2 separate regions of the Homo sapiens genome follow, and region 2 is linked to region 1. Evidence: fine-mapped expression QTL. Tissue or cell type: testis. Region 1 holds a variant in brackets; the other region holds the start of a gene. All regions are shown on one strand. Distances are from middle to middle.

What was found. PIP is the estimated chance that this variant, and not a neighbour inherited with it, causes the effect.
Region 2: TBC1D30 starts here. The variant in region 1 is fine-mapped to the expression of TBC1D30 in testis (GTEx, PIP 0.93).

Annotation. Positions count from the first base shown.
Region 1 is chr12:64,880,483-64,883,242 of GRCh38, forward strand. It overlaps TBC1D30 (TBC1 domain family member 30), which reads left to right. Exons shown (of 12, transcript NM_015279.2): 12 at 1-551. Among named protein-coding and RNA genes, the nearest start is that of LINC02389, 1.9 kb to the right of the region's middle. The variant A/G (reference allele first, on the strand shown) is at 1,506.
Region 2 is chr12:64,823,421-64,826,050 of GRCh38, forward strand. It overlaps TBC1D30 (TBC1 domain family member 30), which reads left to right and starts at 1,227. Exons shown (of 12, transcript NM_015279.2): 1 at 1,227-1,613. The coding sequence starts at 1,460. RefSeq lists a silencer at 1,047-1,286 and an enhancer at 1,925-2,432.

The DNA.
Region 1 (2,760 bases):
ACCTTCTCACTGTGTCCTCACACAATGGAGAAAGGGAGTATGTTTTGGTCTCTTCCTCTTCTGATAAGGGCACTAACCTCATCATGAGGGTCCCATCCTCCTGGTGTCATCTAAACCTAATTACCTCCCAATGGCCCCGCCTTCAAATACCATCACGTTGAAGGTTGCTTCCTTCCTGGTCGTTTGCTCTGGTGAGACCAAATGACCTGCAAAGTGTCACTTGATTCCATTCTCTCCATCCCTTCCATCCCAGGCAATCTTTATCTAGCTACACCAACCTGTGCCCCAGGGGCTTCAAGAGTTGTTGTTGTTTTAACATTAAAAAACCAGAAAGTTCACTTGTTTCTTAGTGTTTACATCCTTGCTATAACAATTCTAGTTTTCCTTTAGGCAATGCTGATCACTGGGAAGGAGGTGGATCAATTCTCCTATGGGACCAACAGTTTTCTGGGAAGAAACTTCCTGATACCTCAGCCTAGGAATCTCCCTATCCCTGGAGAGTCCAGGAATCTATATTAAAACATGAAACAAAGCAAAAAATAAAAAAAAACCTCCTTAGTAATTGTTTTCTTTTTGAGACAGGGTCTCACTCTGTTGTCGAGGCTGGGGTGCAGTGGCACAATCTTGGCTCACTGCAGCCTCCGCCTCCCATGTTCAAGTGATTCTCCTGCCTCAGTCTCCCAAGTAGCTGGGACTACCAAGTGTGCACCACTATTCCCGGCTAATTTTTCTATTTTTAGTAGAGATGGGGTTTCATCATGTCCACCAGGCTGGTCTTGAACTCCTGGCCTCAAGCAATCCGCCCACCTTGGCCTCCCAAAGTGCTAGGATTACAGATGTGAGCCACTGTGCCTGGCCTTCCTTAGTAATTTGAACGTTGAACTAAGTTTAGCAACCACTGAACAAGTTAACTATAGCCATATATCACCTGATGACGGGGGTAACGATGGGGAAATTGTTAGGTAATTTCAACATTGTGCGAATATCACGGAGTGTGCTCACACAAACCTAGATGGTATAGCCTACTACACACCTGGGCTATATGGTGTAGCCTATTGCTCCTAGGCTACAAACCTGTATAGCAAGTTACTGTGCCGAACACTGCAGTCAGTTGTAACACAATGGTAATTGTGTATCTAAACATATTAGAAAAGGTACAGTAAAAATACAGTATTACAATCACACAGGACCACCATAGCACATGAGGTCCATCGTTGACTGAAACGTGGTGTGGCACATGACTGTATTGTAATGGTCTCCTAACTGGTCTCACTGCCATCCATTTTGGACCCTCCCCCTGCCCACCCCACCTCTCTGCTGCTTGGCTATACACTGCTGCCAGAATGATCTTTCTAAAATGAAAAACTAATTGGGCCATCCCTCTGGTCAAAATCTTTCTTCAATTTCTGGAGGGTAAAAGCTAAAATCCTTATCTTAGCATGATTTGACCCATGGTTAATTTTCCGTCTTATTTTCCCACAGCTTCCCCATTCATTACCTCGTGC[A/G]ACCTATCCTCACCAGCACCATAATATCAACCATTGGTGGAGCTCCTTGAGCTCAGCACTATACTAGCTCCTTTGTGCTATCTCACTTATTCCTCCCAAGAGCTCTGTGAAGCTTACTGGCACTGTATTACAGATGATGAAGGTGAAGTGAGCAGTTACATCCTTGGCCAGTTGGAAGGAGGTGGATGAATTCCCCTATGTGATCAACAGTTTTCTGGGAGGAAACTTCCTGATACCTCAACCTAGGAATCTCTCTATCCCTGGAGAGTCCAGAAATCTATATTAAAATGTGAAACAAAGCAAAAAAACAAACAAACCTCCCTTAGTAATTTTTTTTTGTTTTTGAGACAGGGTCTTGCTCTGTCGCCCAGGCTGGAGTGCAGTAGCGCAATCTCAGCTCACTGCAACCTGCTCACTGCAACCTATTTAGCTGGCAAATAACATCTGGATCTATCTGACACCAGAGCCTGAGCTTTTCCTTTGCTACACTGTCTTATAACTTTGCCCATAACTCCAAGTTCCCTGAAGGCCCCCCACTCCGCTAATGCCCTCATACTGCTGTGTATTCATAAATCCTTGCTTCGAGCACCCTCCTTGCTTCAGTCTGCCTGGCAGATACCTACCTATCCTTTTGGTCTCATCGCACACATTAATGAGGTAAAATCCAATCTATGCCACTATATGATTTGGGGCAAGTTACTTAACATCTGAGACCTTCAATTTCCACATCTGTACAATGAGAATAATTTCAATCTCATAGGGTTTGTTGTGGACAATTGCCGTCTTTGCTGCCCAGAATTTACTATGCTTTGGCAACATTGCCTTAATTTTGCTTGGGGAGCCAGCCCTCCTCCACCTCTGCCCATGTACTTCCGGTGACAGTGATGGCCCTGGAGGGAGCACAGGGCCTGAGCTCAGACACTCAGCACTCTTCCTCCTCCTCACCATGGTGTCTGACCCATGGATGAGCCACAGGAAAAGAAGCTCAATTCCTAGGCTCTTGTTTTGAACTCTCACGTAAGCAGACTCACTCATTTCTACTGGATTTGGTCCTAAGTTGCTAAAGTTTGGGGAAAATTGGGTTACATATAGCTTATGTGATTAACTCCATAAATGAATATGCAACAGAATTTAACCTGGAAGGAAAAAGCCCAGGAGTTGTTGCTGGCAGCTCTCTTGTAACCATGAGGGGAGAGCTTGTTGGAGAAGAGTTAACACTCAGCAAGCAGAGCTGAGAAACAGAGAGAAAGCAGGC
Region 2 (2,630 bases), 57 kb before region 1:
CCATTAATTTTCAATTGTTAGGGTTTTCTTTTACAATTTAAAAATAATTTATTCATTTATAGTCAGGGACTAGGTCTGTTGCTCAGGCTAGAATGCAGGGGTGCAATCATAGCTCACTGCAGCTTTGAACTCCTAGTTTCAAGACATCCTCCTGCCTTGACTTCCCAAAGTGCTAGGAATACAGGTGTGAGCCACCGTGCCCAGACTATTTTATGTATTTTCAAATTTTATTTTTATTTTTATGTCTTTTTAAGAGATGGGGTCTCGCTATGTTGCCCAAGCTGGCCTCAAACTCTTGGGGCTAAGCAATTTTCCCACCTCAGCCTGCCAAGTAGCTGGGACTATAGGCATGCTGTTCCATCATCCTGGTTTTTTAAAAATTTAATTTGTTAATATTATTAATATAGTGTTATTCCAGAGCCAAAACTACAGGAGGCACATCAAGAGAGGACTCAGTTTTCCATTCTTGTCTCCTCCACGATGTTCCTTCTCCTATACAAGTTTTCTAATTTGTTTTTGGTTTATCCATTTAGTGTTTCTTTTTATAAATATTAGCAAACACAAGTATCTTTATATCCCCCCCCCACACCCTTTCTTTCATCCATTTTAATGGTAAATAGTCTATTGGTGAATATTGCCGTTTGAGAATGACTTTTTTTTTTTTAAACCATAATGATGGGCAATAGTTCAGAACTACTGAAGTCTGGCTGGAGAGATGAGGAACATTACTTTTTAATACTGCTTGAAAAGAGAACACTTTTTTTCTGGAAGCCCATTTTTCTAAAAGAAACAATAATTTTTTTTTCCTTCATTTTCTCCGCGCCTCTCTAATCTGCCAGGAAATAATTCAACGCAATTCGGGCTGAAGCGTGTGCCTCGCCGCCTGCGGTTGGGTCATGGCCCCTTCTGAGACTGCTCGGAAGTGGGAGAGGATGCTTGCCCTTACGGGTGTTCTGCCCCTGAGACTGGCGCCCCTTGGTGCTCCCTCTGTTCCCTCCCAGATCTTGGGAGAAGCACGGACATCTCTGTTTCTGCTTTTGGTCCCCGAACGCAGTTACGCGCCCACTGGCTCCCTGTCTCTGGCGCTTCTGGGCACGGGGGAGCTGGGGCGGCCCCGCCTGCGCACGGCGGTGCCGGGATTGGGGGCGGGCACGCCGCCTCCGTCTCCCACGCGCTCGCTCGCTCGCTCGCTCCCGCCCTCCCCGCCTCGAGCGATCTCCTGCCTCAGCCTTGCAGGCTCCGCACTGCAGATGCCTGCTGGCTTCCCTGCGCTCGGCGGCTCCCGCGGTGCCCCGTAAGTCCCCGTGACCCTCCAGCACCAGCCGGCTGTGCGCTCCCTGCTCCCACGGGCCGGTCAGCCGCAGACACTCACCCAGCTCCGCGAGCTCAGCCGCTCAGCGAGTGGGGTAGCGGGGACCGAGACGGACGGTAGCCGTGCCAGAGCCCGGGGCGCTCTCGGATGCGGCAGGACAAGCTGACCGGGTCTCTGAGGCGCGGGGGGAGATGCCTGAAGCGGCAGGGCGGCGGCGTGGGCACCATCCTGAGCAATGTGCTCAAGAAGCGCAGCTGCATTTCCCGGACCGCGCCCCGGCTGCTGTGCACCCTGGAGCCGGGTGAGGACCCCAGGGCTGCAGATGGGGCGCTGTAAAGTAGCGCCGGGGCTGCCCGCGCTTCTGCCTTAGCCTGACTCCGTCTAGGCCGGGGAGCTCTGGGGAAAGTCCGCGTGCCACCTGGTGCGGGGCACCGCGTTGGCACCTGCAGGGAGCGATTGGTCTGGAAGGGTAGAGGGCAGACGGGGGCCTGGGTGGGGCAGCGGCCACCCCAGGCGCGGAGAACCCGCTGCTTCCACCCTCTCCCCGCGGACCCCCACCCTGCGGCCTGTGTGCTCGGCTTTCTCCGCGTGGCGGGGAAGTGCGGGTGGCTGCCCGGGCCCTCAGAGGCCGCACCACCTATTGTGTTCCAGGCTCGCAGGAAGCCAGACCTTGCGAGAGGTGTGTGGGGGCGGAGAGTGGCACAGGTTTGACACTGCAGGTCGGAGGAGGAAGACAGTGGCTGCAAAGGCAAAATCGGGTGTTATTTTCCCAAGAGTCCCTTCAGCGTGAGTGCCGGGGTCAGCTCGAACTGGAGCCTGTAATTTGTGAGTGCGAGTGGGGAGCAGCAGGAGATCCTTTTCATAGGTGAGGTCCAGGAACGAGCCTGGTCGTGCTAGGCAAGGCCCTTCCCACTGTCAGCCTGTGTTTACCCATCCCTGCTTCTCCAGACTGCATAACTCCGTGTCGGCTCCATCACCCGGCATCCCTCCCCGGGATTTTAAGAGCCTGGCCCTAGCGCGGGCTCCTGGGCACGGAGGTTTCTGGCAAGGAGTGGCTGCAGAGGGAGTTGGCTGTACTCTCACTGGTGCTTGGCGCTCACCTGTTCCCTGGAGTGGCACCGGCTGCGTTCCAGGCGGGTTCACGGTCCCCGGCCCCCGCCCCCCAGCGCCAGCGCCTTGGGGACCTGCTGTAGAGCCGCAGGAGAATCGAGCTGCAGAGTCCCAAAGGGTGGGATGCGGCACTGCCTTTCCCAACCTCGTGGTTTCTTTGTTGTTCTCCCCTAGGAAGTGTCTAGTTGCAGAGGCTGTAGTATTTATT